7 linked regions of the Homo sapiens genome follow. The protein of the gene in region 4 purifies or fractionates together with the protein of the main gene of each other region. This does not show direct contact. Each region holds a gene or a part of one and is shown on either strand. Other genes may lie near its edges.

Evidence for each region.
Region 1: the proteins of LIMCH1 (region 4) and KLHL15 purify together in Homo sapiens (affinity purification with mass spectrometry; 3 studies listed by BioGRID and IntAct, with this or other methods). This does not show direct contact.
Region 2: the proteins of LIMCH1 (region 4) and YES1 purify together in Homo sapiens (affinity purification with mass spectrometry, with the first as the bait; one large-scale study listed by BioGRID). This does not show direct contact.
Region 3: the proteins of LIMCH1 (region 4) and TRMT61A fractionate together in Homo sapiens (co-fractionation; one large-scale study listed by BioGRID). This does not show direct contact.
Region 5: the proteins of LIMCH1 (region 4) and GABPA fractionate together in Homo sapiens (co-fractionation; one large-scale study listed by BioGRID). This does not show direct contact.
Region 6: the proteins of LIMCH1 (region 4) and CTNNA1 purify together in Homo sapiens (co-immunoprecipitation; one large-scale study listed by IntAct). This does not show direct contact.
Region 7: the proteins of LIMCH1 (region 4) and PLEKHA7 purify together in Homo sapiens (co-immunoprecipitation; one large-scale study listed by IntAct). This does not show direct contact.

Annotation. Positions count from the first base shown.
Region 1 is NC_000023.11:24,003,187-24,006,686, reverse strand, and holds part of KLHL15 (kelch-like protein 15), read left to right. Parts: coding exon 1-698; intron 699-3,500. UniProt on the Homo sapiens protein: Substrate-specific adapter for CUL3 E3 ubiquitin-protein ligase complex.
Region 2 is NC_000018.10:802,243-805,742, forward strand, and holds part of YES1 (tyrosine-protein kinase Yes), read right to left. Parts: intron 1-3,500. UniProt on the Homo sapiens protein: Non-receptor protein tyrosine kinase that is involved in the regulation of cell growth and survival, apoptosis, cell-cell adhesion, cytoskeleton remodeling, and differentiation.
Region 3 is NC_000014.9:103,532,196-103,534,884, reverse strand, and holds part of TRMT61A (tRNA (adenine(58)-N(1))-methyltransferase catalytic subunit TRMT61A), read right to left. Parts: intron 2,304-2,689; coding exon 2,037-2,303; intron 336-2,036; coding exon 64-335; 3' UTR 1-63. UniProt on the Homo sapiens protein: Catalytic subunit of tRNA (adenine-N(1)-)-methyltransferase, which catalyzes the formation of N(1)-methyladenine at position 58 (m1A58) in initiator methionyl-tRNA.
Region 4 is NC_000004.12:41,625,157-41,628,656, forward strand, and holds part of LIMCH1 (LIM and calponin homology domains-containing protein 1), read left to right. Parts: intron 1-1,551; coding exon 1,552-1,854; intron 1,855-3,500.
Region 5 is NC_000021.9:25,751,972-25,755,471, forward strand, and holds part of GABPA (GA-binding protein alpha chain), read left to right. Parts: intron 1-17; coding exon 18-263; intron 264-3,500.
Region 6 is NC_000005.10:138,931,425-138,935,534, reverse strand, and holds the end of CTNNA1 (catenin alpha-1), read right to left. Parts: intron 2,958-4,110; coding exon 2,823-2,957; intron 2,648-2,822; coding exon of another isoform or gene 2,577-2,647; intron 1,734-2,576; coding exon 1,446-1,733; 3' UTR 501-1,445; downstream 1-500. UniProt on the Homo sapiens protein: Associates with the cytoplasmic domain of a variety of cadherins. The association of catenins to cadherins produces a complex which is linked to the actin filament network, and which seems to be of primary importance for cadherins cell-adhesion properties.
Region 7 is NC_000011.10:17,004,415-17,007,914, forward strand, and holds part of PLEKHA7 (pleckstrin homology domain-containing family A member 7), read right to left. Parts: intron 1-3,500. UniProt on the Homo sapiens protein: Required for zonula adherens biogenesis and maintenance. Acts via its interaction with CAMSAP3, which anchors microtubules at their minus-ends to zonula adherens, leading to the recruitment of KIFC3 kinesin to the junctional site.

The sequences.
Region 1 (3,500 bases), on a different chromosome or scaffold from region 4:
GGGACGTGGAAGGATTCTGTTCCTCCATCCACGACACCAGTGTCTCTGCTGGGTTCAGAGCACTGTATGAGGAGGGATTGCTTCTTGATGTCACTCTGGTTATTGAAGATCATCAGTTCCAGGCCCATAAAGCACTCTTGGCCACCCAGAGTGATTACTTCAGAATTATGTTTACTGCAGACATGAGGGAACGAGATCAGGACAAAATTCATTTAAAAGGTCTAACAGCTACCGGTTTCAGCCATGTCCTGCAATTTATGTACTATGGAACTATAGAGCTGAGTATGAATACCGTTCATGAGATTCTTCAGGCTGCCATGTATGTTCAACTTATAGAAGTGGTGAAGTTCTGCTGCTCTTTTCTCTTAGCGAAGATCTGCCTAGAAAATTGTGCAGAAATTATGAGACTCTTAGATGATTTCGGCGTAAACATCGAGGGAGTCAGGGAGAAGTTAGACACCTTTCTGCTAGACAACTTTGTGCCACTCATGTCTAGGCCTGACTTTCTGTCCTATCTGAGCTTTGAGAAGCTCATGTCTTACTTGGATAATGATCATCTGAGCAGGTTCCCAGAGATAGAGCTGTACGAGGCTGTGCAGTCTTGGCTGCGGCATGATAGAAGACGCTGGAGACATACCGATACCATCATTCAGAATATCCGGTTTTGCTTGATGACCCCAACCAGCGTTTTTGAGAAGGTTAGTGCATTTGAAAGCAATAGACAGTACTCATCATTTAGTTAAGGCAGTGTATGTCTTTATAGATAAGATTCACAGACTTAAGAGCCAAGAATGAATAACTTCATTTTGTTATTTCTTATGTTATTCAAGAATGAATAACATAAGAGTACTTTATGTATAAGAAGCCTGATTTGTTGTGCATTTAGGTTTTGTAAAATACATTTTGTGGGTGAAAGATAAACCACGTAGGTAGTAAAACAGTTTTATTTTAAAAGTACTTTTAAAGTTGAAGCATAATTACTTTATGCAAAATATTACATGTTTGCTGTAGCTTTTCTTTTCATTTCATCAATTAAATCGGAACCGAGTCAGGCTAGATCTCTTTTTAAAAATAAATTTAAGTAATACATGCAGAAATTGGCATTGAGAAGAGTTCTGCATGGTATACATTAATAGAGTTTCTTATTCCTCTAAAATATAGCAAGGACGTACAAAATAGCTCTTGAAAACCAATAGGCCCTAATGGTGATTTTCTTCCCTGCTCTTACCTTCTGGTTTTCCCCGTTTTACTGTGAATACTAACTAAATTTGACAATGAAAACATGTTATATGTCTAAAAACATCATTTTGGCATTTCTAAACAAGTAGACTATAACTCTTCTATCTACATTGATCAACCATCCCTGGGCACATTTTACCATGCAAATAGTTCTCTTAAAAATAGTCTTTCTCTGAAACAGCCTTGGCCTTTTTTTGCATGTAAGCATTTTCATTTTTATATCAGAGTTTCACTTGTGATCCTTTCTTGCCCAAAGGTCATAGAGCACTTTTAGTAATTGCTTAACTTAATTGGTTTCTAATCACATGGTTACCTCTGGGGCTCTGTTTACTTCTTGCATCTTCTCTTTTTTCTAGAAAGCACACTGAAAACTTGGTCGGTCACTTTTCATGTTAAATAGTTCCTCAGCTTTAGTTATTAGACCTGGTTATAAAAATACAGTATCTGCAAAGGAGGGTTGTCTACGCCATTTGAAAAATAAACCCATTTGCGCCTTTGAATAACAGCAGCCTGACATATTTTTTTTTCCTCCAAAATGCTGTGAAACTGAGAATTCAGTTTTGTGGATTTTTGTCTTTTATTCTCAATGTATTGATGTGGCAGAAATAATTGAAACTAAATTATATATATGTATGTATGTATTTTTTTTTTTTTTTTTGAGACAGAGTCTCGCTCTGTCGCCCAGGCTAGAGTACAGTGGCGTGATCTTGGCTCGCTGCAAACTCTGCCTCCCAGGTTCAAGCGATTCTCTTGCCTCAGCCTCCCGAGTAGCTGGGATTACAGGCGTCAGCCACTGTGCCTGGCTAATTTTTGTGTTTTAGTAGAGACAGGGTTTCATCATCTTGGCCAGGCTGGTCTCGAACTCCTGACCTCATGATCCACCCGCCTTGGCCTCCCAAAGTGCTGGGATTACAGGCGTGAGCCACCCCACCCAGCCAATAATGTATTTCTTTTATTTTTTGTTTAGTGATAATCAGCCCCACATCAATTATGTAAATCATTTGTCTCTGATGTTTTGATTTTTTTCCTATTGTTTTTATTGCTCTTTTTCCCTGGGGAATCCTGTTTTGTTTTGTTTTTGTTTGTTTTGTTTTGTTTTGAGAGGAGTCTCACTCTGGCCCTGGAGTGCAGTGCTGCGATCTCAGCTCACTGCAGCCTCCACCTCCTGGGTTCCAGCAATTCTCATGCCTCAGCCTCCCGAGTAGCTGGGATTACAGTTACCCACCACCATGCCTGGCTAATTTTTTGTGTGTGGAGATTCTTAATTCTTCCTTTGGTAGTAACAGATTTGAACAGTGACTTAATAGTGTAGGGAAGGGGGCATTCTGCCTCAACCCAAGGAAAAGCCCCCATTCGTTCTAGGGACACAAGTCATGTCCTCTAGCTGTGCTGAAATCTTTGGGTTTATCCTTCTGCAGTATCTATGTAGTCCTCTACTGGATTTTCTCCTTAGGTGAAGATAAGATTGTCTTAACTTTTTTTTTTTTTTTAGTATACTTTTTTCTTTTTTAATATTTAACTTTTTTTTGTAGAGATAGGGTCTCACTGTTGTCCAGGCTGGTCTTGAGCTGGCCTGAAGTGATCCTCGTGCCTCGGCCTCCCAGAGTGCTGGGATTATAGATGTGAGCCACCGTGCCTGGCCAGATTGTCTTAATTTTTGTACTAAGTATTCTGTGGGACCATCATCGAAGAGGCCAAGGCTTCCAAATTTCCTGAGTTCCTTAGAGGCAGCAATACTGTTTATCTGAACACTGCATGTGCACACGAGCACACACACACACACACACACACACACACACATATATTTATGCTAGGTCATGTACTAAGTGCTCTTACCGTACATATAGGTAGCATCTACATGGTTTTTTTTTGTTTTTTTTTTTTTGGTTTTTTTTGAGACGGAGTCTCACTCTGTTGCCCAGGCTGGAGTGCGGTGGCACGATCTAGGCTCACTGCAAGCTCTGCCTCTCAGGTTCACGCCATTCTCCTGCCTCAGCCTCCTGAGTAGCTGGGACTACAGGCACCCGCCACCACGCCCGGCTAATTTTTTTGCATTTTTTTTTTTTAGTAGAGACGGGGTTTCACTGTGTTAGCCAGGATGGTCTTGATCTCCTGACCTCGTGATCCGCCTGCCTCGGCCTCCCAAAATGCTGGGATTACAGGGGTGAGCCACCGCGCCTGGCCATGCATCTACATGTTATCCCCATTTTATAGATAAGGAAACAGGCACAGAAAGGTTAAGGATCTTATTCCAGACCAAG
Region 2 (3,500 bases), on a different chromosome or scaffold from region 4:
ATCTCTCTTAAAAAAGAAAGAAAATAAAATAATTAGAAAGTATTGCCAGGCGTGGTGGCTCATGCCTGTAATCCCAGCACTCTGGGAGGCCAAGGCAGGTGGATCACCTGAGGTCGGGAGTTCCAGACCAGCCTGACTAAAAATACAAAAAATTAGCCAGGCAAGGTGGTGCACGCTTGTAATCCCAGCTACTCAGGAGGCTGAGGCAGAAGAATCGCTTGAACCTGGGAGGCAGAGGTTGCAGTGAGCGGAGACCACACTATTGCACCCCAGCCTGGGCAACAAGAGTGAAACTCCATCTCAAAAAAAAAAAAAAAAAGTATTAATTGAACATTCTCTGCCAGCAATTCAAATGTACTATTTAATGAAGAAGAAAAAAGACAAGAAATCTCCCTTTCCATCATTGCTCCTCATTCCTAAGAAAGTTATGGCATATGGAACAGGCTTGTAGTCAGCCCTAGGTTTAAATCCCAGTTCTGCCGGTTGTGTGACCTTAGCAAATTATATATACTTTCTGATTCTCAGTTTCTTTATCTGTAATAAATACCTACCTCAAGGGGCCCAGCACAGTGGCTCACACCTATAATCCTAGCACTTCGGGAGGTTGAGGCAAGTGGATCGCTTGAGCCCAGGAGTTCGAGACAGCCTGGGCAACAAGGTGAAACCCTGTCTCTATTCTAAAAAAAAATAAAAATAAAAAACAGGCTGGGCATGGTGGCTCACACCTGTTTTCCCAGCACTTTGGGAGGCCGAGGCGGGAGGATCCCTTGAGCCTAGGGGGTTTAAGATCAGTCTGAGCAACATGGTGAGAAATTTTGAATTTTAAAAATTAAAAAAAAAATTAGCTGGGCATGGTGGCTCACAACTGTGGTCCCAGCAGCTACTCAGAGACCAAGGTGGGAGGATCACTTGAACCTGGGAGGCAGAAGTTGCAGTGAGCCAAGGTTTTGCCACTTCATTCCAGCCTGGGTGTCAGAGTGAGACTCCGTCTCAAAAACAAAAAATAAATACCCATCTCATTCCTAATTTTTCTGTGTATTTTGGAAACACATTTCAAAGATTCAAGTCAAATGTGATAATGCATATAAAAGTATGGCATAGCACCTATCATAGGACAGGCTTTCTTCTTTCCCTACCCAATGCCAAAGTGAGGTGAATGGGTGGGAAATAAAAAAAGCACAGAGAAGGTAAAGAAGTTACAAACTCCATATTGTAACACTCCTCATTTTCCCAAACCCTTTTCTACTATTTTTGTTTATTACCCCCAATCTTTTGAAGCTTTTCTATACCTCATACTGTCCTATAGGGTTAGAGTATGAGGCAGGTTTCACTGCCACTAGCAAGCAGGTGGGGAAACCTAGGGAAGTTTCTGTACTTAAATTAAGCTTAATAGCAATGCCTTATTGGGAGAATCTGAGTCTCCTAACAGGGAACTCAAAACAGTGATTTTTAAATAGTGAGGAGCTGGTAAGGTGGGAAAGGAGGGTGACTGGCAAGGCTACAGGTTCACCCACCTCATAATCAGAGCACTTGTAGGCCAAATATTTTATTTGTTCAAAGAGCTCAGCAGTTAACAAAAACCAGGCAAAAACTGATAATCAGTCAGAAAATATTTTACCACCAAAGTATTATTTTACCTATTTGTGAGGCTTTTATAAGACTCCAACGGGCTGCCTAGAAATCAGGCCAAAAGGCTTATGTTACAGAAAAGACTTCCTGGAAAAACAGATTCTAATTTTCAAAACATCAACTTACAAACTTTCAGAACACTGTAATTTTAGTTTCTTTGTTTTAGAAAATCTATTTTACAAACCTTAAAAGGCTAACCATTTTCCAATGCCATGCTTGTCTTGTTCTAAATATTAACTGTATGTGTATAAAGACAAATATCCAGAACAAGTTGTCCATACCTTTGTCAATTAAAAAAATTAAATGTAAATTTTGATGATAGTGGCTATTTTTCTCATATAATGTTGCAAAGTTTTTATTCAAATAGCCACGATTACTTGTTAACTGACATCATAACTATCCACTTCAACAGAATAATTAAGTCATTTTTCTAATTTTATTACGAAAAAATCTGGGCTAGGCACAGTGGCTCACGCCTGTAATCCCAATACTTTGGGAGGCCAAGGCAGGCAGATCACCTGAGGTCAGGAGTTCGAGACCAGCCTGGCCAACATGGTGAAACCCCCATCTCTACTAAAAATAAGAAAATTAGCTGGGTGTGGTGGCACACACCTGTAATCCCAGCTACTGAGGAGGCTGAGGCAGGGAGAATTGCTTGAACCCGGGAGGCAGAGGTTGCAGTGAGCCGAGATTGCACCACTGCACTCCAGCCTGGGCAATAGAGTGAGACTGAGTCTCAAAAAAAAAAAAAAAAAAAAAGGCCAGCTGAGGTGGCTCACACCTGTAAGCCTGGCACTTTGGGAGGCCAAGGCGGGCGGATCACCTGAGATAGGGAGTTGGAGACCAGCCTGACCAACATGGAGAAATCCCATTCTCTACTAAAAACACAAAAATTAGCCGGGTGTGGTGGCACACGCCTGTAATCCCAGCTACTTGGGAGGCTGAGGCAGGAGAATCACTTGAACCCAGGAGGCTGAGGTTGTAGTGAGCTGAGATCAAGCCACTGCACTCCAGCCTGGGCGACAGAGTGAGACTCTGACTCAAAAAAAAAAAACACAAACCAAAAACCTAGCATAGTAGTATAAATGTTTGCTTAATTAGTAGAACTGCAATTTGCTTGAGAAAGTTCCGTGTCAAGTCCATGGGTCAGTTTTTTATAATCTTTACTTATATCTAATGTGATTCCAAATTTTAGACTCAAACATTTCCTTAAAATTTTATCAATACGGTCATGCATCACTTAACATATATTCTGAGAAATGCCTCATTAGGCAATTCTGACATTATGTGAACACTCTAGAGTGTACTTACACAAACCTACGTGGTATAGCTGACTACAACCTTGGGCCATATAGTATGGCCTATTTCTCTCAGGCTACAAACCTGTACAGCACACAACTGTACAGAATACTGCAGGCAACTGTAACAGTATTTGTGTATTTAAACATAACTAAATGTAGAAGAGATACAGTAATTACACAGTATAAAAAAATAAAAAATGGTACACCTATATAGGGCAGCTCTACTATAATCTTACAGGATCACCATCATTGAAACTTCCTTAGGCAGAGCATGACTATATTGTAACAACTTCAACTGCGGCAGAGCACACATTTATATATAAAGCTGAGAAACTATTAGAAACCATGAGGCCCAACTACCTTTTGTTTCAAATTGCAAAACTAACGCCTAGGGAGTTTACTGAATCGACCAAGGCTAAACAGCTCTTCACTGTCAGAAATGAAACTAAAATCTAGATAGTGTTAGTGCTCTACCTTCCAGTCCTTTCCTTATAACACCATATTGCCTTCTCTGCTCCTTCCAAATGTCTGGCTGCTATTATTTTTAAAGTATCCTTATCTGTAAAATAT
Region 3 (2,689 bases), on a different chromosome or scaffold from region 4:
CTCTGGCCTCCCTGCCCAGCCCTTCAGTGCTCCCAGCTCCCTGGTGCCCTGGGAGGCGGCCCCCTAGCCTGGGGTCTTGGTGGCGAAGGTCAGGTAGCCGGTGTGGCCCACGGCCTCCTTCATGGGCGTGCCGCTGCGGAAGGGGCTGGTGTCGGAGCCGGCAGGGCCATCTGTGCCTGTGCCCAGGTCGGGCGGTGGCAGGCTGACAGTGCGCACGTTGTAGACCTGTGGCAGCACCTCCAGGGTGCTCAGCTCTGAGAAGCCGCGCGCTGCCAGCGCCTGGCATGTGCGTTGCACCTGCTCGATGCACGGTGAGAAGGAGCAGAAGCGCCCGCCTGTGGGAAACAGGACCCGAGGGTCAGAGGGCAGGGGTGGCAGAGCCTGGCCCGTCTGGCCCTAGCATCCCTGGACTCCCACCCTAGGGTCTGAGGCCAGCCTAAGACAGCCCCAACACAGACTGCAAGCTCTCCAAGAGCTGGGACTGCAGGGCAGAGGGGCCTGGCCCTCAACTGACAGCCCCCCATGGGGCCTGGCGCCGCTGTTCATGTCACCCAGCTTAGCCATGCCAGGCCCTCCCATGTGCCAGGCACCGGGTCAAGCCCGCGCTGCCATTGTCTCACTTGGCCCACAGCGGGCACTGCTCTCCTGCCTTCCACAGGGCTGCTGGAGCTCTGGGCCCGGAGCAGCTCTGACAGCACGGCAGCGTGGGGCGGTGCGGGGGCCGCTGCTGTCACAGGAAATTAGAGGCTGTCGCTGCTCCCGGGAACAGGAGGCGCCTACTCGAAGCAGAGCCCGAGCATGACAGCCCCTCCCTGCCGCCTCCCACCAGGGCAGCCACGGGCTTCACTTGGCCTGGCCTGCAGTGAATGAGAACCCAGCCCGGGTCCCTGTCCTGGCAGGGAGGACCTGGGGAAGCCAGGGCCGGGTAGAGGTATGTGGCCCAGGCAAGTGTCCTCAAACGTCCCTGAGGTTTGGTCTCCTCAGCTGTACCCTAACACGGGGCCGCCAGGAGGTTCGGGGTTAGAGGAGGCACCTGCTGTGTGACAACAGCCTAGACAGGGCACAGAGGCTGAGCATGCCGCATCCTCCCCAGCGGGCTCCCGTGGCCGGCAGGAGATGCCGGGCCCATGAATGAGCCAGGAGCCTTTGGACCCAGAAGGGGGAGCTCGCAGGGAAAGGGACAGGTCCCAGAGGCAGGCGCGGGTTCCCCGAGCCACGCTGGAGGAAGGAGTCACAAAGGCAGCAGGGGGGCCCCAGGGGAGGCTCTGCCGGGTTCAGCCTCCCTGGGACTATGGTCCAGGCCCAGAAGTGTCCCCAGAGCAGGAAGCCTAGGAGGCAGGGTGTGGAGATCCCCACAGCTACCCACCTCAGCAGAGACCAGGACCCAGGAGTCAGGGCTGGGCTGGAGCCAGCAGGGGACCCCCGGCCACAGCCTTGCTGTTCGCACCAGGCCTCGGCTCATCTTTGAGGTGGGGTGGGGCGCCCAGCACCTCCACCCTTCAACCCTCTCAGAATACAACTCTCAGCTGGGAAGAAGGAAGGGGCCCCTGCTGCCTGAGCTGCTCCTTCTCCAGAAAAGGGAAAAACCCTGGGCCTCCCAGCCACCTCCCTGGCTTGAGGCCCGACCTTCCCCAGGGCTGCCCCGCCTCCGCACCCAGCATCTTCCCTAAAAGGGGCCAGCTCCCTGGGCTCCAGAGCCTGGGGGAGGAGAGGTTTTGGGAAACAGCAGGGAGGGGACTCCAGACTCCTCCGGCCGGGCCTGCCCTGCACTTGGGTGGCGCTGCCACCTTCCTCCATCAGGGGGTTGGGAGAGGCCAGAGACCAGGAGCAGGGCCCAGCCAGGGACCATCCTCCCCAGCTCTGCCTCCCCTGGCCAGCCTGACCCACTCCTCACCTCAGGCCAAAGTGGGGCCCTGGCCTGGCCACTGCCATGGTGTGGCTTGGTCTCTGGACCCCTCTGAGATCCCAGGAGCTCAGTCCTGCACCCTTGCCCCACCCCCACCCAGGCTGTACCTCTCCCGGAACCCCGGATGCACCTTCGACCTTGAGGGCGTCCCAGGCGTGGCCCACGGCCTCCCAGGGTGATGGGATGTCCAGGAAGACGGCGTCGGCCACGTGGCTCACGCCAAAGCCACTGCGGCACACGTCCTGGGTGCGCACAGTCACCCAGCGGCCCACACGGTGCTCCTGGAACTCCTCCCGGGCCTTCTCTGCCCGCTGCTGGTGGAACTCCACCGTGTGCAGGTGACCCGTGGGTGCAATGGTGCGGATGATGGCGTGGGACACAGAGCCACTGCCGGTGCCTGGCAGGACAAGAAGGGATGGGCAAGGCATCAGTTGGGACTGCTCGGGACCCACAGCCTCCCAGGAAACAACCCCCACCTCACCCTGGAGACCCACACAGGGCTTGGGAGGACCCCAAGCTACAGGTGGGCGTCATTCCAGGGCTGTATGGTCCTGGCTGCCTAAAGCCCCAGGCTAGCCCTGGGTTGGGCACCCTGTCTAGGGGTGAGCTGGGGTTGACAGGCTGTGTATGCCGTGCTGTCTGTTGTGGGCACAGGCGAGGCCAGTGGCAACCCTGCCCTATCCTGCCTAGCGCAGGTATAGGGAATGAGAGCAGCCCAGCTGCCTGGAGCCTCCGGGGAAATCTGTGCAAGGGGGACAGGGAGGCCATCCCATCACTCAGCCC
Region 4 (3,500 bases):
GAGCTAGAGACCTTAATATTCTCTTCTGCAAAGTGGGCGTCATAATTCCTATTTTGCAGGGTTGTCATGAAAGTTAGTGTATCTGGAATGTACTAAATGTACTAGCTACTAAGAGTTGTAGTTATTGAAAAATAAAGTAAAACAGACCCAAGTTTCACAAAAGACTGTCCTTAAGGTCCTTCAAAGAAAAAAAAAGCACATTATAAAAGTCATTTAAGTATTTTGATACCTAGACACCTGTGAATACAATCCTACATATCTACCTTATACATATTATTTATTATTTCAAGGCCAACAGGGCCAGCTCAAAACTTGTATCATTATTTTTTGCTCGCCGTGAATCTGCCTTGAAGCTCTGAATTTAAAAGACTCAAGCAATTAGTGGAAAATCAGTCATTGTGACAACTTTTCAAGTGGGTGGGGAGTGTCTTCAAATAGCCAATGATACGGAAACTTTCTTCACGCTCTTTTTTATATATTTTTTTAAGTCTGCATATCTAAATTGAGATCACTTGAAATGAGTCTTGCCACACTGGGCATTTAGCCTAAAAATAAACACCCAACGGAATTTGCAGCCTGGCTGGGTTCACAAGATGCACAAGGGACCAGATTCTCCCTGCTCAAATTGGCATCGCAAATTGGCAGGGTCATTTGCATAAATACGAATATTTTATTCCAAAAAATTCTGCCCAAGTTGGGGGAGGTTGGAGCCCAGGACTGTTTGGTTTGTCCCAAAGTGGAAAGAATGTTGCTCTTGGACTTCAGGGGTTCAAGCAGAAGATCTGCTCCCAAATTAGGGTATGAGAGCTATGATTGCACCACTGCGTTCCAGCCTGGGTGACAGAACAAGACCCTGTCTCTTAAAAAAAAGAAAAAGAAGAGAGGTGGAGAGACAGGAGGATAGAAGAGGGAAGAAAGAGTTGCTGATGGAAAGGTGCAGGGCAAGATAAGCTTCCTGGGAGTGGAGGACCAGGGAATGGAATAGTTTAAGACCATCCTATGAGTGGTCGTAAACTATCCCAGATGTTTCAGGTTAGCTCAGCTCTGAAGAAAGACTTCCTTACATTTTGTAATCTGTTACACATTCTAGGTGTGGTGTCACACAGCTGCATTCATTTGTTTTCCCCCAGATCAGTTTCTTGGTGGCTCAATTTTTTGCCCTGTCAGTCAAAAACAAATTAAGTGTCTACTGGGTACTCATGTGCTAAAGAAAAAGGAACAGTAACAAAAAGCTTCCCATTTTTCCCCAATTTCATGCAAAGAATCTGCACTGTCACTTTCAGAGCCATTTAGGATCCTGCTTTTCTGTTGCTGGTGGAAGCCCTGAAAATTAAATGAATTTTTAGTATTGCTAGTGTCTGGCTAAATTCAAGGTTTTAAAACCCACCCTAACTATGCTGCAATTCTAGACTGAAATAATGAACAGATGTCATTTGAACTAACAATATCGAGAAGACTTTTCACTAACAACACAGTTGTCTGTCTAGAGATGGAGATTTAATTTTTTTTGTCTGATCACATGTGGAGTCCCATTTAATTTTCCCCTATCAGTCAAAAACAATTAAGTGAAGAGAAAGAAGCTATTCGTGATATTGTCCTTCGCAAAGAAAACTCTTTCCTGACCCACCAACATGGCAACGATTCAGAGGCAGAAGGTGAAGTTGTGTGTCGACTGCCTGATCTTGAGAAGGATGACTTTGCTGCAAGGAGAGCAAGGATGAACCAAACCAAGCCAATGGTGCCATTAAATCAACTCCTCTATGGCCCTTATCCAAAGAAAGGGGCAGAGAAATCAGATGGCAGCAAACAGCTCTCAAAGGGAATCTCAAAAAAAAGAAGTCTAGAATATAAAAGGTGTGCATGGTGTGTGTGTGTGTGTGTGTGTGTGTGTGTGTGTCTATGAAAGAGACACAGGGAGAGAGGACATAATTAAGTGAAGTCAGTTTGTATTGTACCCCCTCCAGTTCCTCTTTCCAGCCTCTCAATTATATGTACTTTGTAATGGGGGTTTATTTTGAAGCGGAACTTTAGATATTCAATCTCCCTTAAATGCAGATGGCAGACAGTAGAGTGTCCATGTCCAAAATAGGGCTGAATTTGCCAAAGAAACATTGAATTCCAGTGTGTAGATGTGCTGAATCAGGGCTCATCACCACATATGGGTGCTGGTGTCATCAGTTGGCATTATTAGCAAAAATAGACATGTACTATTGCCTATCAGAGAACAGCCACCTCTCACAGCTGCTCTAGTCCATTCAAAGGAAGCAGAAAAACGCTAAAAGCACTTCTCTCTTATTAGCTACATTTAGATGTTGGAAGAAAAAAAAATGAGACTTGTTCTTTCTTCTGTCACACCAGCAACATCACCTAGACAAATGATAATGGATATTTCCCATCAAAAACACTTCTCAAACTTATACTTCTATATGTTCTGTCATAGAAATTGTTTTCAAGCCAGTTTCCTTTTGCCAACATTTTCCCCGTCCTCTTAATACATGTTGGAGTGAATTGGGGACAGGAAAATTATAGTAAGATGGAATTTGACCAGTGATTTTTGTCCTGAGAGGGAGATATGATTTCATTTAGGGAACCTACTTGCTGAATTTCATCCTGCAGAGTTAATCATTCTTGTATTTTTCCTTATATCAAAATCAGCTAGAGTTAGCATCTACATTATTGAATTGTCATCTTTTTGCCCATCACTTTAGAGGTTTTTAAGCCTGTTGAACTTAGTATATAATTATCTCAGCTGTGCTTTAGACAATTAAAATGGTTCTTTAGGCAGAGTTGTTGAGCTCAGGGGAGTAGTTGGTCTTTTTGATTTTTCTTAGGAAGTACCAGATACAAAAACCCATGAGGGATTCCTGGATATAGAACAGGGATTCGATAAGAGAAAATCTGGCATCATTTCTTTACAGGACACATTATAGCTTCAGGAGGCCCTTGGTCTTTGCCATTGCTGTTGGCAGGCCTTGTAACAAACCATTCTTGGAGGGCCTTGTGGGAGGGATCAGTTGTGCAAGTGAAACAAAGACTTTTGGATAACTGACTAACATCAAGGCATATTGATGGCAATCAGCAATTTGAGTCAGGAAAAGGACTAGCCTTTGTATCTCCCTTGTTTCCTTTCTCCTCCATGTAATTTTAATTCCTGATATTTCCAGCTATATTTGTCTGTTGTCACCTGACTCTGTGTTTGCGGACGCAGTTCTGGGTCTGAAGCAGCCCTTGACCTCTCTAGACAGCATCAAAGAACTTATTAAAAAAAAAAAAAAAAAGAAGGGTCCCTAGTGCCTCTTTGCCATGCCCTTCCTTGATCTCCTTCCTCAAACTAAGAAAATTCTATAGCCTTTCTATTTTTATGGGCTGTGCAAGCATGCCAAATCATCAAGGTAACAAAAGACTACCTCTTGATTTTCCAGCTTGAATGATATATTTTGTGGGAAGATTAATAGGCTCTATTTATATATTTTTTGAGATTTTTCTATTTCAAGAAGCAT
Region 5 (3,500 bases), on a different chromosome or scaffold from region 4:
TTTTATCCACTGTTCAGGAATTGAACCAAAGTTAAACATCCTTGAAATTGTTAAACCTGCGGACACTGTTGAGGTTGTTATTGATCCAGATGCCCACCATGCTGAATCAGAAGCACATCTTGTTGAAGAAGCTCAAGTGATAACTCTTGATGGCACAAAACACATCACAACCATTTCAGATGAAACTTCAGAACAAGTGACAAGATGGGCTGCTGCACTGGAAGGCTATAGGAAAGAACAAGAACGCCTTGGGATACCCTATGGTAATAAAATGCATAATTCTATATTGGGTAGAATAATAGGAATTAAGCTTGACATAGAAGACACTAGGGTAAGTTATAATCTATTTTACATGTAGAGTTATTAGGATGAATGTTGATTTTCTGTATCTCTCTTTTAATTGTAACGCACATTTAAGCTCATGTGGTGGACAAATTCTGTCCTGCGTGCAGGAAATACAAAGAAGTCTAAAAAATTTCTGCTCTTAGGGTGTTGAGAGTGTAGTTGAAGAGAGAGAAGATAGATGAAAAGAGATGATTGCCATAAAAGGTAACATGTTTTTAAACTGCCAGTAACTCTTGTAGAAGTATGCTATTGGAATCTCAAAGAGATCATAGTTGCCCTGAGGGAAAGCTGAAAAGAGTTTATTATAAATAAGATACCATTGGGCAGAGAAAGACATTTAAGACAGGAAATGTTATGTGCAAAGCTTAGACCTGGGGGTATGCATGAGTAGTGAGAAAATGGAGTGGTTAAGGAGTTACTCTGTAGCATTACAGAACTGTTTTTGATTGATGAAAATGATAATTGAAAAATGAATATGGTGGCAATATATGGCATAAGTTGGAACAGGTAGAGACTAAGTGAAGGGAAAACAGGAGCATATTATTATAGTTGTGACTGGATGATAATGTCTACATTAGCCCAGACTCCAGATGATTTCTTTGGGAGTAGCAAGGAAAAAGTGGATGAAAACAGTGATAGGACTGAGCAGATTGACAGATTTTATGAGGGTAGAGAGGGAAGATACAAGTATTGATCTAACTTCTCAAGCTTCATCTTGGTGACTAAAACAGTAATAATCTTGATAAAAATTGGTTCCATCATCATTACATATTTAGTGAACACTACCGTACACCAGGCACCATGTTAAATGCTGGGCTTAATTAAGATGGTGCACTATGAAGAGCATGCTTTCAAAAGCCCAGTTGGGGAAGTAGAGAAGTCTGGTATAGGAAATGTTTTTTTCAAGAGAAGGTGGATAGCACTTGATTTTGATGTGGAAGTTTATATTCAGCTGGAGGTTAGCCAGAAAATGGTTTCAGTTATATAAGATTTGGGCTGGAGACAAAGATGTTATATGAGACTCATTCCCACTGAATTTATATTTGAAGCTATAAAAGTCTACGTAGTCCCTGATGGAAAGCGAGAAATGGAAAAGAACACACAACTAAAGGCATATACACTTGACCCTGTAAACATTTAGGGTTGGAGAAAAGGGAGACAAGAAATAACTGAAGAGACAGAAAGAAAGTAATAACTTATATGTATAGTGTCACTGAAATTGAGGGGAGAGTTTGGATGGTCAAGACTCTCAGATGCTGCTGAGAAAGTCAAAGAATGCTGACTGATATCTATTAAATTTGATGATCAGAGGATTATTCTTAAATTTAGACAGAAGTAACTAGAGTTGGCGAGACAAAACAGAATTATAAGAAATAGATATCTTAGAAATGGGGGCAGATGAGGAAGAATGCTGGGGTAACAAATAAATAATACTGATCTTCCAAGAGTTGGCGGGGACCTGAGTGTATTTGTAAATGAAACAGTATTGTCGGGTTTTTGTCCTTTTTTTATTTTTTATTTTTAGAGACAAGGTTGTACCTGGGGAGCAGGGCTGATGACAGAAAGGCTGTATTGTAGAACCACTGTTTTCCCTAGGACATTTTTTTTCTTTCTTTAAACCAAACCTAAAAGATACACAGTAAATGAGAGAGCTTACCCATGGAACTGAAAGAGAGCTATGGAACCAGACAGCTAATGTAGAATTTCAGTCTGTCCCTCCGCTGCCCAGTACTGTAGCCACTAATCACACGTCAGCACTTGAAGTGTCTCTGGTCAAAATTAAGATGGGTTGTAAATGTAAAAATACCCATTAAAAGAAAAAGTATAAAATCTTTTCTAATTTTTTATATTAATTACCAGTTGAAATAACATTTGGAACATTAAGTTAAAATAAATTCATTATTAAGATGTATTTGACCAACTTTTTAAATGTAACTATTAGAAAATTTAAAATTACATAATGGTCTGCATTGTATTTCTGTTGGACAGCCCTGATCTTGATAATTGTAGCCTTCAGTTCTGGATGTTCTTACTGCATTATTTTGATAAATACCTGTGTTCTTTTTGCTGGAACTCCTGTTGAATCTCTTGAGTTGATCTGCTGCATCTTTTTTCTTGTTTATTTTTCATCTTACCTATCTGCACTACTTTCTGCCAGATTTTCTTGTGTTTTTAATATAACCTATCTGATTTTTAATTTACAAGGGCTCTTCATTTTTGTTTGTTCCTTTCTGTAGCATTCTGATCTTATATTGCCAATATCGTGTTTTCTCCTACTTCTCTGAGTATATTGATTATATATTTTTTTTTAACTTTTAAAAAGCTTTACCGTGGTATATCTGTTTCTTGTGGATTCTGTTTTTCTTGTGGTTTTTGTTTGTGTTGTTTTTAACCTTTCCCAAGTATCTAATTATTTTTGCCCATCTTTTCATATTTAAGAATTAATCACTTTAGGCCAGGCACAGTGGCTCATGCCTGTAATCCCAGCACTTTGGGAGGCTGAGGCAGGTGGGTCACTTGAGGCCAGGAGTTTGAGACCAGCCTGGCTAACATGGTAAAACCTGTTTCTACTAAAAACACAAAAATTAGCTGGGCGTGGTGGTACATGCCTGTAATCCCAGCTACTTGGGAGGCTGAGGCACAAGAATCTCTTGAACCTGGGAGGCGGACGTTGCAGTGAGCCGAAATTGCACCAGTGCACTCCAGCCTGGGCAACAAAGTGAGACTCCATCTCGAAAGAAAAAAAATAAGAGTAAATAACTTTAAAGCTAATTAATGCGAAGTTCTGAAGGATTTGATAACTATATGCTGATAAAACGAGGCATTGACTATTTCATTAAAAGAATTTCAGGCCAGGTGTGTTGGCTCATGCCTATAATCCCAGCACGTTGGGAGGCTGAGGTGAGAGGGTTTCTTGAGGCCAGGAGTTTGAGACCAGCCTGGGCTATATAGCCAGACTGTCTCCAAAAAATAGAAAAAAGAGCTGGGCATGGTGGCATACACCAATATCCTAGGAGGCTAAGCTGGGAAAATTGCTTGAGCTCTGGAGCTTGAGGCTATAGAGAGCTTTGATGGCACCACTATACTCCAGCCTGGGTGGCAAAGCAAGACTGTCTAAAAAAAAAAAAAAAAAAAAAGGGCAAAGAAAAGAGTTT
Region 6 (4,110 bases), on a different chromosome or scaffold from region 4:
TGACAGCTGACTGTAAGTGAGGAAGGGGAGAAAATGTCAACAAGCTTCTCTTTAGGGAACCTTGCTTAGGGTGGGGATGCCAGCTGGGAAGGATCATGGGGTTAAGGATGGTTTTCATCTCGAAGGCCACTATCAATCAATCATCATAGCTTGGTATGTATGTGTGACGGGAAGGATGCAGAAGGGATATGCTGACAGAAGGACGCAGGAGAGGGGTCAGCTATAATGAAGACAGGGATGCCTCCGAGGTTGACATGAACCTCAAGGAATGGACATGTGAATTCCCAAGGTGGGGGTGCAGGGTGGGGCACTCAATAGGACAACGGGCATGGCCCTCCCTGATGGGTTGGCACGAGCCGTGCAGCCTAGAGCCACAGACAGTTTCCCTCCCGGGCATCCCCATCCTGGAAGAGACGGACACCGGGAGGGCCCAGAGCACCACAGATACTGCGGGCAAATCTATGACTTGAAGGCAGAGAAGACGACTTTGGGCTCTTGGATGTCGTGGTTTCATAGTGGACTTTATTGGGAAAAGTTAGTTAGTGTAAAAAACATTCAAATTAATTCATAAAATTTAAATAAGGTGATAGTAAATTATACCTTGTAGTTAATAGTAATCAATCAATCAATCACTACAGTAATCACAAATAAGGTAAAGTCTAAATTACTGCCTTAGCAAACACTATGTTGTCAGGTTTTTCTGCTGCAAGCCCAAGGCGGGAAACACTGCAGTTATTAGAAGTGAGCCCAATGATGAATTTGCATTTGAAGCTGGGAGAAAGAGGAAAAAAAGTGTGTTCTGATTATGGCATCGAGACACTGTAGCCTAAAAAAGCAACTTTATTAATGTCCTGCAGCAGCGTACATTAGTAATTATAACAATGCATTAAAATTTTCATTTCATGTCATAGAGAATCAGTTTTCTTCATGATACATTATGTTTTACTGAGTGAGTTTGTCCCTCCAGAGACCTTTCTGGGAACATGCCTTCTCCAGGGACTGCTTCCTAAGATGCCCAGGTTGCTTACCACAGGTCATCTTTGGTCATTTAAAAGCAGTCAAGCTGTCTGGACTGCACCCTCTCAACTGAAGTTGAGCCAAATTCCCTTCTCTCAAACCCTAACGCCGCCATCACTAAGAGAATGGGCATCTCGGCTTGGTCAGAGCATTACTAACAAGCTAATGTGGGATTCTCTTTGGTTATGAATTTTTATTTTTATTTAAGCATACAAAAAATACAGCTAGAAGTAGGCTCCTGCATTCTAAAAGCATTTTTAATCAACTTAAACTATGTTCTTGGAAAATTCACCACCTGGACTGGTTCAGTCTGCCCATTTCCCTGTGGAATCTAGTATCAGTGTTGTATTTAGCAAATTCATTTGAGTGACGAACAGTGACTGATATTCAGGAGCCCCGAGGGGTGGGGGCGGCCGGCCTGGGCAGACTTAGATGCTGTCCATAGCTTTGAACTCGCTGAGGGCCTGCACCGGGTTCACGTGCTTCTTCTGAGATGCCCGTTTAATCTTGGTCTGTGTCTCATCCTGTTTCTCTCTCTTCACCAATGGCTTTTTCTCTGGTGCCTTCATCTTCCATGACACAGCAGGAAGGTTGAGGGAAGCCATACCCTGTGACTTTTGGTATTTGGTAGAGGCGACGTAGGATGCCTTCACTGTCTGCACCACAGCATTCATCAAGTTCTTGGCTGCCTGGATCAGGGACATGGCGCTGTCCACCTACGAGGCAGACAGGGGTGGTAAGAAGCACCGGCCTGACCTCCAGCCTCGTGGACACAGGTGGGCTGTGCTTGAAGGGGAGCCCCCTACTCCTCTGCAAGACCAGGGCCTGGGCAGGTCGCAGAGGATTGGGCAGCAGCCTGTTCCTGAAGAACACCCTCAACGGCTGCTCTTATCTAAATAGCCTGGAAGCGCCTGCCCTCAGACCCTTTGGAGAAGACATGAGGCAACCTCGCCTTGCTCACCCCCACCCCTCAGCAAGTGTTTATTCACTCAAACCAACTGGAAGTCACTGTAAGTGATCCCAGAGCTGTAAGCACGTGGGGGAGGAGAAGCAGGAATCGAGACAGGGATGTTTATGGCAAAGCAGATGAGCAAATGGTCTCAATATGTTCAATATAAGAAGTGTTTCTTTTAAAGGAAATTCAGTGGGATTAAGAGAAGCCATGGAGGCTCGGTGGACCCCAATCCACTCAGCAAACCTCTTCTTTCCCCTGCCCTAGGTGAGAAAGGCCTCAGAACTGTGATGTGGTAAAAAGAAAGAGACGCTACCCAAGCACTCTGAGGAGTGAAGGGCTTTTGAGAAAACACCCTATCTATGTCTACTCTTAATTCCTCTCTGGGGGAAGAAAAGGAAGTTTTGTTTTGTTTTGTTGTTTCGTTTTGTTTTGAGACAGTCTTGTTCTGTTGCCCAGACGGGAGTGCAGTGGTGCCATCTCGGCTCACTGCAACCTCCATCTCCCAGGCTCAAGTAATTATTGTGTCTCAGCCTCCCAAGTAGCTGGGACTTACAGGTACCTGCCACCACGCCCGGTCCCAAGGAAGATTTTTAAAAATTCCTACCCAGTGAGTGGCCAGCAAAGGGGAGGAGGCCAGCCTTTCAGCCCTTGCAGTGCCCCGCAGGTGTCACAGTTCTACAGGGAACAGATGATGGACAGACCTTGGTCTCCAGAGACTGGGACAGGACTTGGAGTTTCTGCACAGCACACTTTCCCAGGGCAGGTGTTTATGCGGATAGGAGGTGACTTTCATTTCTGACAAGGGTCAGCACGTTCCCACTGGCCCTCTTTTTGTTCAGCTAATGCTTACCCCAGAGACAACAAGCTCCCCGCCGAGATTCTGCACCTCGGCCTTGACCTTGCTGCAGATGTTCAGCTGGTGGCAGTAGAGGGCGATGCGTTGCAGGTAGGCCAGCAGGTCCTGCTTGCAAGCCGAGTCGGGGCACTGAAGAGAGAGCAGGCTTAACACCAAGTATCCTGGCCTGGCCCAAGCACCCCCGACCCCACGGCTGTTTCTGAAAGGTTCAGTGTGGCACTCACATGCTTCCTCTCCTCTTGCTGGAGCAAAATCACCCAATTACCTGAGGCAGTCACAGCCCTTGCCTACACTCTGCTTGGGGATGGAGGCGGGTGAGCTGATGGAAGTCGTCCATGGGACCCTGACTGCGCCGCATGGCACTGGTTGTATAGCCAAGGCCTTCTGAGCCTCCCACTGACTTCCCTCCTATGACGGCGGGGAAACCACCCTGGCCAAGGATCCCCTCACCCCAAACGGCAGGGTGGAGGCCCATGCCCCTCGAGGTGAGAACAAGCCGGCTCAGCAAGCAGGAGCCTGGCTATGGAGAAAAGTCCAGATGTTTTTAGCTAAGTAAACAAATAGTTAACTCTTCTGCTCTGAGGCACTTTGCGTTATTAATGCCTGATGACAAAAGCCACTCACTGCAGGCTGAGGTGGAAGACAAGTGAGTAAAGTAAAGCAAGAAAAAAAGCAGTTGGGGATGGTCAAAGAGAAAAGGGTGGCCCCTGCCCAGTTCCTGTCTCGCTCCACATCTCAGAGTTTTAGAGGCTCCCAGATTAGGACCAGCCTAGAAAGCTTTACCCAAAGGGAGAAACACAGAGCACCTCTCAAGTGTTTATAGCAAGCAAACATTTTCTTCCAGTGAGGCTGGAGCAAAGTACACCACAGAGAGTGGTATGAACTGAGACCCCGCAGACCATACTGGAGATGAGCTGTATTCTAAGTAGTCATGGAAGCAGGGCAGAGCCATGTGATCTGCATTTTCAGATGACAGTATTGACAGCTGGATGCAGAAGGAAGTGGAGAGAGGAAAGAACAGGAAATCGGGAGCGGCCACAGTAGTCCAAGTGGCTATGGAGATCTGCAGAAAGGACAAGACTGGTTTGTGTCAAGATACATTTGGCCAATGGAAGCAATAGGCCCTATTACCGATTGTGTGGGAGTCAAGGATGCCTTTACAATCTTTGGCTTGTGTAAGGAGGCTTGTGTCTCACACATCCTGTGGCCTAGATGAGGCTGAGAGTTTGGCTATTTCAGGGAAAATGGTGGGGAGGCTTGTTAACTACAGAGAAAAACTGTA
Region 7 (3,500 bases), on a different chromosome or scaffold from region 4:
ACTGTTTCACTCTTGTCGCCCAGGCTGGAGTGCAATGGCGCAATCTCAGTTCACTGTAACCTCTGCCTCCTGGGTTCAAGTGATTCTCCTACCTCAGCCTCCCGAGTAGCTGGGATTACAGGCACGCACCACCATACCCAGCTAATTTTTGTATTTTTAGTAGAGATGAGGTTTCACCACATTGGCCAAGCTTGTCTTAAACTTCTGACCTCAGGTGATCTGCCCACCTCGGCCTCCCAAAGTGCTGGGATTACAAGCATGAGTCACCATGCCCAGCCCAGTATACAACTTTAGAGAAGTCACTTTACCCCTCTGAGCCCAAATTCCCGCACTAAAAAAATGCAATAATTATGGGACAAACCAGAGAATGTTCGTGAAATACTCTGTAAATGATAAAACATTAACTCAAAATATTTCTCATTTCAGAAAATTGAAAAGCAAATGTTTTGACAGCCATTTAAAAACAACAGGCAAATACAACCATATTCCTCCGTGTTTTTCCCTCTGCCAATATTTACTTAAGATACCTGCCAGTTTGCTGAGATGATGCTGTCTTACACTGAGCAAAGAGATTCAAACCTGTGCTGTCCTCTGAAGATAGAAAACAAGAGCAGGTACCTCACTGAATTGCCAAATATTCCACATATTGAGGCTGAAAAGCCAACAAGCAGTCTTCCTACAGCCCTCTGTCACCTCAGACTTAACGGGGGGGGTAAACTGGCATCTCCCTGCCCCTGCACACGTTTCTGTTTAAAGTGCTGTCTTAATTTTTTTCCAAAGTTCTCAATTTAGGAAGCACCAAATTTACTCCCATAGACATCAAAAGAGAATGGAGGCTGGGCCCGGTGGCCCACGCCTGTAATCCCAGCACTTCCAGGAGGCCAAGGTGGGCAGATTACTTGAGGTCAGGAGTTTGAGACCAGCCTGGCCAACATGGTGAAACCCCGTCTCTACTAAAGATACAAAAATTAGCCAGGCGTGGTGGTGGGTGTCTGTAATCCCAGCTACCCAGGAGGCTGAGGCAAGAGAATTGCTTGAACCCAGGAGGCAGAGGTTGCAGTGAGCTGAGATCATGCCACTGCAGTCTAGCCTAGGTGACAGAGCAAAACTCTGTCTCAAAACAAAAAAAGAAAGAGAGAGAGAGAGAATGGAGAGGGTGCCATCAAGGCACAAGAAACCTACACCCACCCTCATCACATGAAAACACCTCTTCCCAACCCAGCATCTGTCCTATCTCTAAAACACACTCCTCTCATGGGTAAAGAGCCTTAAAAAGCAACTTGCAACCATTTTTCTTAAAGACGTTTCCTTAAAGAAGTTTCTTTTTGGAGATGTGGTATAAATCATGGCTCCTAATCCTTCCTTTCGCTTTCTAAACAACACTCACTGTTTTTCCTTTCCCACAGAACCTAACGTTTAAATCCATGAACCAGTTTTTACCCTTGAAAATGCAACCAGGAAGTGAAATATAAAGCATGGGATTCTGCCAAAACTTGCCAAGCTGGGAAAACCTTTCTTAACCTTCAATGAGGGGGTTCAGAATTTCTATTTTAGTATATATGTAAGCTGCTAGTTTCCCAGAAATTCTTTGTGGGACTATTACCCCCAGGTTTGAAATAAAGTTTCTGGGACTGCTGTTCCCAGCAACATCTCAATAAGAAGGATGACAAATAAGGCTGGGCATGGTGGCTCATGCCTGTAATCCCAGCACTTTAGGAAGCCAAGGCGGGTGGACAGCCTGAGGTCAGGAGTTCAAGACCAGCCTGACCAACATGTGAAACCCCGTCTCTACTAAATTACCCGGGCATGGTGGTGGGCGCCTGTAACACCAGCTACAAGGGAAGCGGAGGTTGCAGTGAGCCGAGATCACACCACTGCACTCCAGCCTGGGCAACAAGAATGAAACTCCATCTAAAAAAAAAAAAAAAACGTCCAGGCACGGTGGCTCACACCTGTAATCCTAGCACTCTGGGAGGCCAAGGCAGGCGGATTGCCTGAGGTTAGGAGTTCAAGGCCAGCTTGGCTAACATGGTGAAACCCCATCTGTACTAAAAATACAAAAAAATAGCCAGGCATGGTGGCGCATGCCTGTAGTCCCAGCTACTCAGGAGGCTGAGGTGGAAGAATCGCTTGAACCCGGGAAGCAGAGGTGCAGTGAGCCGAGATGCCGCCACTGCACTCCAGCCTGGGTGACACAGCAAGACTCAGTCTCAAAAAAAAAAAAAAAGGAAGATGATATATAAGTGAATCAATAGGTTTGACATTCTACAAGATAAATTTCACTGCCATGAAGTTCAACATTTATCTAGGGAGGAAAATATAGAAGACAGGACAGACTCCTTCCTAGGGGTGGCCCAGAAGACTGTCGGTTGGGTGAGGTCATAATTAAGGGCAGCCTCCTGGGCTGTCCAGTATTCACTGGCTTTCCTAAGGGCCTTCTAGGCCTGGTGTCTACAAAATCCCCAACTGAACATCTGTCACATTTGGTTCATCCTTCACTCTCCAACTCCCTTTGATTTCAGACTAAAAAATGGGTTGCTGAATACAAAACACACACCCTTGATACTTGGCATTATCTCCAGAGGTAACCTTCTGAAGGACTCATGCCTGGTCCCCACTCCCTGCCTCGGAGGACCAGGTTCTTAACTGCCCACTCCCAGCCTCCTGGAGCCCTAAGCCCTGCCTGGGCTCCCTGCTCCTCCCTGCTGCCCAGGGGGGCATGGATACAGGTGCTTGTGCTCTATGGTGTCTTGGAGTGGGGCATGGTGGTGGCAACTCCTAGCATATGAGGTAAATGCACTGATATTCACATTTAAAACATTATATTCTACAATATAGAAATAACTATAAAATTTATGCTAATAATTTAAACTTAATTTTTCTTTATGTAGAATTACATTAAATAGAAAAAAAAATTTTTTTTTTGAGACAGAGTTTTACTCTTGTTGCCTAGGCTGGAGTGCAATGGTGCAATCTTGGCTCACCGCAACCTTCACCTCCTGGGTTCAAGCGTTCCTCCTGGCTCAGCCTCCCAAGTAGCTGGGATTACAGGCACTCGCCACCATGCCCATAAATAGCAATTTTATTTTTTTTTAAATGACAAGTCAAGGGAAAAACTACAGAAGAACAAAATTTTACATTTTAGGATCTCTAAAGATGCTTTTTTTTTTTTTTTTTGAGACAGAGTCTCATTCTGTCGCCCAGGCTGGAGTGCAGTGGCGTGAGCTCAGTTCACGGCAACCTCCGCTTCCCAAGCTCAAGTGATCCTCCCACCTCAGCCTCCCTAATAGCTGGGACTATGGCCATGCACCATCACACCCGGCTAAGTTTTGTATTTTTTGTAAAGATAGGGTTTTACCATGTTGCCCAGGCTAGTCTCAAATTCCTGAGCCCAAGCAATCCTCCTGCTTTGGCCATTCAAAGTGCTGGGATTACTGGGTGTGAACCACCACGCCCGGCCTAAAGATATTCAGTTGGTGCAAAAGTAATTGCAGTTTTTA